2 linked regions of the Homo sapiens genome follow. The protein of the gene in region 2 purifies or fractionates together with the protein of the main gene of each other region. This does not show direct contact. Each region holds a gene or a part of one and is shown on either strand. Other genes may lie near its edges.

The links.
Region 1: the proteins of PHLDB2 (region 2) and INPP5E purify together in Homo sapiens (affinity purification with mass spectrometry, with the first as the bait; one large-scale study listed by BioGRID). This does not show direct contact.

What each region holds. Positions count from the first base shown.
Region 1 is NC_000009.12:136,429,846-136,433,345, reverse strand, and holds part of INPP5E (phosphatidylinositol polyphosphate 5-phosphatase type IV), read left to right. Parts: intron 1-66; coding exon 67-191; intron 192-270; coding exon 271-390; intron 391-759; coding exon 760-867; exon of another isoform or gene 868-1,030; intron 1,031-1,360; coding exon 1,361-1,522; intron 1,523-2,228; coding exon 2,229-2,344; intron 2,345-2,932; coding exon 2,933-3,069; intron 3,070-3,500. UniProt on the Homo sapiens protein: Phosphatidylinositol (PtdIns) phosphatase that specifically hydrolyzes the 5-phosphate of phosphatidylinositol-3,4,5-trisphosphate (PtdIns(3,4,5)P3), phosphatidylinositol 4,5-bisphosphate (PtdIns(4,5)P2) and phosphatidylinositol 3,5-bisphosphate (PtdIns(3,5)P2).
Region 2 is NC_000003.12:111,882,538-111,887,858, forward strand, and holds part of PHLDB2 (pleckstrin homology-like domain family B member 2), read left to right. Parts: intron 1-1,526; coding exon of another isoform or gene 1,527-1,540; coding exon 1,541-2,875; intron 2,876-5,321. UniProt on the Homo sapiens protein: Seems to be involved in the assembly of the postsynaptic apparatus. May play a role in acetyl-choline receptor (AChR) aggregation in the postsynaptic membrane.

The DNA.
Region 1 (3,500 bases), on a different chromosome or scaffold from region 2:
GCAGGTCTGGGGGTGGCGGAGCTGGGAGGCCATGTCCCCCAGCCGGCCGTGCTTCCTCCTCTGCAGGCGGGAGTGGGAGACTCGTCTGCAGGAGACGCTGGGCCCGCACTATGTGCTGCTGTCCTCGGCGGCCCACGGCGTGCTCTACATGTCGCTCTTCATCCGCAGGGACCTCATCTGGTTCTGCTCAGGTGGGCGCGGCTGGAGGGGTGGGCGCGGCTGGAAGGTGGCAGCGTCCCACAGGTGAGCTGAGGGCTGCCCCTCCCACAGAGGTGGAGTGCTCCACGGTGACCACACGCATCGTGTCTCAGATCAAGACCAAGGGGGCCTTGGGCATCAGCTTCACCTTTTTTGGCACTTCCTTCCTCTTCATCACGTCCCACTTCACCTGTAAGTTGCTTGGTGCCCGCACCGCAGGTGCTGTGTGAGAACAGCTTCCTCTCCTGACCGGGACCCTGTCCAAGGCAGGGGTCCTGACCGCTGGCTTCATCTTCCACCCAGGGCCGTGGGGTGGGCACCACGCTTGCTAAGATGCACGCCAAGGACCCCCGGCAGACCCCGGCACCGAGGGCGTGCCGTGCTGGGCCCGTGCTCTGTCCTCCGAGGCGGAAATGTCACTGGCTGGGCCCGGCAGCGGATGCCCGGTGGGGTTGCGTCTGCCGGGGGTGCGCAGTCAGGGCACAGTCCAGAGGTGCGGCGCTTTAGGGAGACTCGAGCATCCGGAACCCTGTGGTCCCTACCCCATTTCTGTTCCCACAGCAGGTGACGGGAAGGTGGCGGAGCGGCTGCTGGACTACACCAGGACTGTACAAGCCCTGGTCCTGCCCAGAAATGTGCCCGACACCAACCCCTATCGCTCCAGCGCAGGTGAGGGCGTCCACGCTGCGTGTGGGTGGTGCCGCCGTGGTTCGCACACGGGCGCCCGTCGTTTTTAGGGCAGTTCTGAAGAGGCAGCGTCCTGAGCTTTGGGAAGCGAGGGCCGAAACGTCCAGTGCCCCCAGCGCATGGCCCCTCGCGGTTCTTTAGCACGGTTAGTGGGGTGGGCGGATCCTGTCCACTCGGCGTGGCCCACTAGCCTGGGTCCTGGTCCTCGCCACTGCCCGCCCCGCCGCCTCCCCTGGCTGTGTGGAGAGGAGCAGGGACGTGGCCATCGCCTGCCATGGGCATCGTCTGCTCCTGAGGCTGCTCCAGGTGCCTTCTGGAACTGTCCCAGTGCGAATCCCACCCCTGAGGGCCCGGCCCCACCGGCTGGCGCCCAAGACCCACTTCCCCTGAGAGCCACTCCCAGGCCATGTTCTGGGGAAGGGGAAGGACCTGCCGTCCCTCTGCCTGTGCCCACACATGGCCCACTGTGCCGCAGCGGACGTCACCACCCGCTTCGATGAGGTGTTCTGGTTTGGAGACTTCAACTTCCGCCTGAGTGGCGGGCGCACAGTCGTGGACGCCCTCCTGTGCCAGGGCCTGGTGGTGGACGTGCCGGCGCTGCTGCAGCACGACCAGCTCATCCGGGAGATGCGGAAAGGTGAGGGCCTGGGGGGGCGGGCATGGAGGGAGATGAGGAGAGGTGAGGGCCTGGGGGGGCGGGCGTGGAGGGAGATGAGGAGAGGTGAGGGCCTGGGGGGCGGGCGTGGAGGGAGATGAGGAAAGGTGAGGGCCTGGGGGGCGGGCGTGGAGGGAGATGAGGAGAGGTGAGGGCCTGGGGGGGCGGGCGTGGAGGGAGATGAGGAGAGGTGAGGGCCTGGGGGGGCGGGCGTGGAGGGAGATGAGGAAAGGTGAGGGCCTGGGGGGGCGGGCGTGGCGGGAGATGAGGAAAGGTGAGGGCCTGGGGGGGCGGGCGTGGAGGGAGATGAGGAAAGGTGAGGGCCTGGGGGGCGGGCGTGGAGGGAGATGAGGAGAGGTGAGGGCCTGGGGGGGCGGGCGTGGAGGGAGATGAGGAGAGGTGAGGGCCTGGGGGGGCGGGCGTGGAGGGAGATGAGGAGAGGTGAGGGCCTGGGGGGCGGGCGTGGAGGGAGATGAGGAGAGGTGAGGGCCTGGGGGGCGGGCGTGGAGGGAGATGAGGAGAGGTGAGGGCCTGGGGGGGCGGGCGTGGCGGGAGATGAGGAAAGGTGAGGGCCTGCGGCGGGTGGGGGGAGGGTGGGCGTGGTGGGAGATGAGGAGAGGTGAGGGCCTGGGGTGCGGCGGCTGGCACAAGCTGGTCTGAGCCAGTCCGAGTGCCCATCCTGTGGCAGGGTCCATCTTCAAGGGCTTCCAGGAGCCGGACATCCACTTCCTCCCATCATACAAGTTTGACATCGGGAAGGACACGTACGACAGCACCTCCAAGCAGAGGACGCCCTCATACACGGTGAGGCCTGCCCACCGCTGCGGTGCAGAGTGCTTCCAGGGCAGGCATCTCCCACAGCCGGGAACCGATGCCTGGCGTCAGGGGTCTGAGCCTGGACGGCCTGGACTTGAAACTCAGCTCTGCACCTTGGCCTTGTGGCAAGTCCCCTTTGGTGGAGAACGGCGCCCTCTCCATGGGTGTTTTCAAGGCTGGGTGAGCCGGCTGGCACACAGGGCACCAGCCATGCCCTCGCCTCCGGCCTGCAGAGCCTCTGCCCTCTGCCCGTTGCACCCTCGCTCACCCTCCTGCCAGGCCCATGGCTGCATCTCTGGGCATGTCCCGATATCTGGATATCTGCTGGAAGCCTCAAGAAGCCACTGAGGCAGGGCAGGGTAGGAGCAGCCGCTGTCCACAGGGTCTCTCCAGCGGCGAGGGACAGGCCCTGGCCCAGCTGGCCACAGACGCCAGGCAACAAAATGGGCATGAGTGTCAGGGGTCCCAGAAGGCTTCCTTGTGGGGGGCGCTTGAGAACAGCAGGGAGGTGAGCGGGCCACGCCCCACGGCTCCTCACAAGTAACTGGACCTCCTGCCTCTGCAATCTTCCCAAAGGACCGCGTCTTGTACAGAAGCCGCCACAAGGGTGACATCTGTCCTGTGAGCTACTCTTCCTGCCCCGGGATCAAGACGTCCGACCACCGCCCTGTGTATGGCCTCTTCCGGGTGAAAGTGAGGCCGGGGCGAGACAAGTCAGTGTTCTCCCGCTCACCTTCCCCCTTGGGCCTGGGGGTCGTGCCGTCGTCCCATGAGCTAAGAGGGTCCCTGTCATCGTGGGGTTCCACTTGGGGCTTTGTTCTGGGACCTTCAGGGCTGTGTTCCCCGGGATCGGTTGGACTCATCCTGGAGCAGGAGAAGGCAGGAAGGGGAGAGGCTCTGGAAAGTGAAGAGAGGCCCAGCTGGGGGGCTGGGTGTGGCCAGCTGGAGGGACGAAGGCCTTAAGCACTCAGGCATCCGCCCTGTCCTTCCTGCGGCTCTGTCCCAGGAACAGGCCTCCGTGTGCTTAGAGGCAGGGCCAATCTGGGCCAGTGCCCACCTAACAGCCCCTCATCCTGGCCCTGGGTGTCCTCTTAAATGCCCCCTCCTCCGGGGCCGGCCCCCTCCTAACGCCCCCTCCTCCTGG
Region 2 (5,321 bases):
AAATATAATGAAGAAACTTCATTTTTTTCTTGAGGTACATTTAAAAAGATAAATTATGTTTGTATCTATCTGGGCAGGGCTTTGGGTTAGAGGAGAAGGAGCCCAAGGCACCTTTATGGACAGTTGGGTACCTGGCCCATCACCAGGATTTATGCAGCCAGACTGTTTCTTGGCCTTCTGGATAAAGAAGCAGCTCTTTACTAGGCTGCCTGAATTTGCTCACAAAGTGTGTGAAGCTAAGCAACAGGGTGAAGGTCCTTAATCCATGGCTGAGAGGGAGTGAGGAAGGCTTTGATTAAAATGGAAAGCTTATGTTCATCAAGTTTTTCACCTATAGGACAACAAGAGCTAGAGGGGTGGAAGATAAAAATACTAGACATAACCTCTTCCTTAAACTTGTGGCCTAGTTACAGAGACAACCACATTATGAAACCATTACTAACCATATGTGATACTGTTTATATATAGACCAGAGATGTCATAATTAGTGTCTGATGTGCCTAAGGGTTGGAGGACAGTTATAGTGGTTCATGAGTTCAGTGACAATGTTTAAACTGTATTTTCCCTTTGCTGATAATCTAAGAAAATTTTTTTTTATCAGGTAGAATTATAAGCCTTCCCATTTGCAGTAATAGTTTGTAATTCAAAGACATTTTCATTGGCTAAAACTTTAGTGTTTTAAGTTAACATTGTGCAAACCAGGGTTCAAAACATATTTTCTTAAAAATTTTAATGGTGGAAGATAGAATCCTGATCTGTCCCTGGAAGAGTGACTAGGTCCTGATAGTTGTTTCTGCTAGAGGAGAGAATTTGCAAGGATGAGCATAGTGCATTTGGGGTACTAGAAAATTTAAAGGATATAACAGTTTCAGGTTTTTAAATATACCATCCCGACCATGTGTCAATAATTGGTGGAATACCCTTTTCTTTGTTATTACCTACCTCTGATGACTAAAGGAGCTTTAAGTCTTTTTGTTGAGAAGGTAACTCCCAGAGTCCTTGTTTAAAGAACCATCTTCTAACCCTCATGTTATTGATCAGTGTCTAACGTAAACTTTTTTTTCTCTGCCCAAATGTGAATTTTGTTTCCTCAGGACTTTATTTCTGAACAGTTAATGATTCTAGCAGAGACAGCTATAGGAAAGTCCATTGCATTATGCCTTTGGGCATTAGCTAGTCACTAGGGAAGCAGGTGTTCCTCGAAGGGCCAGAACATTAAGGACAAATTGTCTTTTTTAATGTACCAGCCTAATCCTGCACCTTTACTTGGTTAGGGATTTGTTTCGCTCAAATGTCATTGCTGTCCTTTTATTTCTCTTTTGTACATAAGTTATCTCAGGTCAATGATCTTTATTCTCCTTTAATTTGCTGTATGGTTTTAACAGGTTTTTTAGTAAAACTGAGTTTGTGTTTGTTAGTTGCATTAGGTCAGACTGCAAGATTGTTTGTTCAGATGTAGGCCTAACAAGGGATTGTTCTTTTAAAATCTTCTTTAAGGCAAAATTTTCTGTTTTATTTCTTTACAGATTCCAGCAAGATTATGGAAGAGCATAGCTACATACAAAAGGAGCTAGATTTACAAAATGGTAGCTTAGAGGAAGACTCTGTGGTGCATTCTGTTGAGAACGATTCCCAAAACATGATGGAGAGCCTCAGCCCAAAGAAATACTCTTCCAGTCTGAGATTTAAAGCCAATGGAGACTATTCTGGCTCCTATTTAACCCTCTCACAACCTGTGCCTGCAAAGAGAAGCCCTTCTCCTTTGGGAACCAGTGTCAGAAGCAGCCCCTCCTTAGCCAAAATCCAGGGAAGCAAGCAGTTCTCTTATGATGGAACTGACAAAAATATTCCTATGAAACCTCCAACTCCTTTACTCAACACTACATCCTCCCTCAGTGGATATCCACTTGGAAGAGCAGACTTTGATCATTATACTGGCCGGGACAGTGAAAGGGCCTTGAGGCTCTCAGAGAAGCCTCCCTATTCCAAATATAGCTCAAGGCATAAATCGCATGACAATGTCTACTCTCTTGGAGGGCTGGAAGGTCGGAAGGCATCTGGCTCGCTCCTGGCCATGTGGAATGGAAGTTCCCTGAGTGATGCTGGCCCGCCTCCTATCAGCAGATCGGGAGCCGCAAGCATGCCTTCAAGCCCAAAGCAAGCCAGGAAAATGAGCATTCAGGACAGCCTGGCGCTTCAACCCAAGTTAACTAGACACAAGGAGCTTGCATCTGAAAACATCAATTTGAGAACTAGGAAGTACTCCAGCAGCAGCCTGAGTCACATGGGAGCCTACAGCCGATCACTTCCCAGGTTGTACAGAGCCACAGAGAACCAGCTGACACCTCTCAGCTTGCCTCCAAGAAACTCTCTGGGCAATTCCAAACGAACAAAACTTGGGGAAAAGGATCTACCTCATAGCGTAATAGACAATGACAATTACCTTAATTTTTCTTCTTTGAGCTCAGGGGCTTTACCCTATAAAACCTCTGCTTCTGAAGGCAATCCTTATGTAAGTTCTACCCTCAGTGTCCCTGCCAGTCCACGAGTGGCTCGGAAGATGCTTCTGGCCTCCACCTCCTCCTGTGCCTCTGATGACTTTGATCAGGCTTCATATGTGGGGACAAACCCGAGTCATTCACTTCTTGCTGGAGAGTCAGACAGAGTTTTTGCGACCAGGAGGAACTTCTCTTGTGGATCTGTGGAATTTGATGAGGCAGATTTGGAAAGCCTCAGACAGGCCTCAGGAACCCCCCAGCCTGCCCTTCGGGAACGGAAAAGCAGTATTAGCTCCATTTCAGGACGTGATGACCTGATGGATTATCACCGGCGGCAGAGGGAGGAAAGACTCAGGGAGCAGGAAATGGAGCGATTGGTAATCTTCATCTCAACAGTGATTGACCTCACTGTTTCATTAACCAGCATCTACAGGGCAGCCTTGGAGATGGACTCCAGGATATGTGGGAATATAGGATATTCATGTTCACTAGCCACAGCTGCTATCTTTCTCTTCTCTCCTGCTATCCTTCTTCTTCCCATATCACTATTAATAGGCTTGTTTGGCTATCTTGAAGGCCTCCAGGAATTAATGTTAATTTAGTTGCTCTGCGGACTTCTCACAAGTATAAATTCTTTAAAAACATAACAGAGGAGTTGGGAATTTTATGAAATTTCTGAGTCTTACAAACTTCTCTTTAAGACTATGAGGAAATGCTGACTTGTATTATTTATATCATTAAATTTGCTTGTGTATGGTTATGAGAAGTAGTCAGTGAAATCATGACTCACCAAGAATTAGGTAGTAAATTTGTCTTTATAGCAAGTTGTCTAGAAAGTTGGAGTTGCCTCAGTGGTGCTCAGCTTTTCTCCACACTGTTCATACACAACCTTACTATCTTTAGCTCTGATTCTTATCACGTACAGTGATTCCAAACTACACATACTCACAAGATCTATTGAGTTGTCTTTTTCCATTTAAAATGAATTTATACTTATTGTTGAAATATTGAAAATAAGACGGGGAAACATCCCTTGAGAGTCTCACCAATGAATGAGAACAAACAACTGCATTTTTCCTTTCTCTTTTAAGCACAGGTTTTTCTCTTAGAATGAATATCTGTGAGAGATTACTTTGATTCATTTTTGATTCATGATTTCCTTAACAAGAGAAGCTGCAGGATAGTAAAGCTGATTTACAGCAACACAGTAGGATTATCAGTGTTTTAGTCGCTAAAATATTCTAGAATATGATTTTTGAATCACAAAACTGGTTGATACCCTATAGGACAATAAAATTGTAACCCAGGCTTGTCCAACCTGTGGCCTGTGGGCCGCACAAGGCCCACAATGGCTTTGAATGCCACCCAATACAAACTCAAAGTTTCTTAAAACATTATGAGATTTTTTTTGCCTTTTTTTTTTTTAAGCTCATCAGCTATCGTTAGTGTATTTTATGTGTGGCCCAAGACAATTCTTCTCCAGTGTGGCCCAAGATTGGACACCCCTGTTGTAACCTTTGGATTATAATGGACAGAAACCATTTGCATCCATCCAGAAGGAAATACGTTTGACATTTTAGAGCAGTAATCATTTGCATCACTCATAGTTTTTGATAAGTTGATGTCTGTTCTTACAGAGTTTTCAAATACCCTAACTGACAATAGTGAATGAAAACAAATGTGCATACCCTTAGAGAATTTAGACAGTCTTTGAGTGGGTCAGTTATACAGTACTCAGTATGACTTTCCTCTTTATTACCATAAATAATCTCTGCAGACTGTTCATGGTCACAAAATGGCATTGTGTTTGGGCTTGCTTCATTGACAGAAATTCAGAAGATGTTTTAATTAGCATACAAAAGTCTTGTATATGGACAGCAAATAGAATGCTATACCATGCAGAGCAACTATTATTTATAAAGCCAGAATATTAACTTCTATCCGATAACTTATCAAGAAATCTGGGAGAGCATTTTTAATGGCTTCCATTACTCCGGACATCTTCCTTAAATGCTTCTATTTGCTCTTCTGTTCCAAGGATAGGGAACCAAATTCAAGAAATTCATCTCTGCTAGGTTTCATGTTCAGCATCTCTAAGTGTTGGTGAATTTCTCTTTCCTCCAGATTTTCCAAATCTGGTATGGTTCTTGGCAATCCAGGAAGTGACCTTCTGTACTGCCTGTAAGGTTGGGCCTGTTAAGTCATAAACAGTTTTGACTTCTTGGGAGAGCTTTGTGGATATTGCTCTAAATATGAAGTTATATATTTTTTCTTTAATAGTGGGCGTATCGTATTTGTTGAAATGAGGCTTATTTTTAAATTTGACACTCTAGACTTGATCTTGGTTGCATGGTCTATTTGTTTGACTACATTGTGGTAAAAGGGATGACGGATTCTTATCAAGCCTATGCAAAAGATGATATTGCCATTAAAAAGTAAAGTGACTCAAATTACTTCCTGAATTCTGAGAGATCAGTGAGAACAATTTACCATTAAAATAATATTTCATTTAGTTTGCAAAATCAGAGTTAGCTGAATAGAGGATTAGAGATAGAGCAGTATGAATGCCAAAGGGTTTTCCCCCTGAAAAAATAAAACATTAAAAATAATACTAGTAATATTCCAAAACATATATCCACATTTAGAAATTCATTTTTTATTATCAATTCAATCACTTCTATGTAATTAATTCTTATTCCTCTGTATCTTAGGCTCTTAATTTGGTTTCATGAAGTCATCTATTTCTAGACTAAAAAGTCCTGAAAATCTGATGTGGCTGCCTAGTACTATCTCATTTTTGTCTATGCAATTCTTTGAAATATT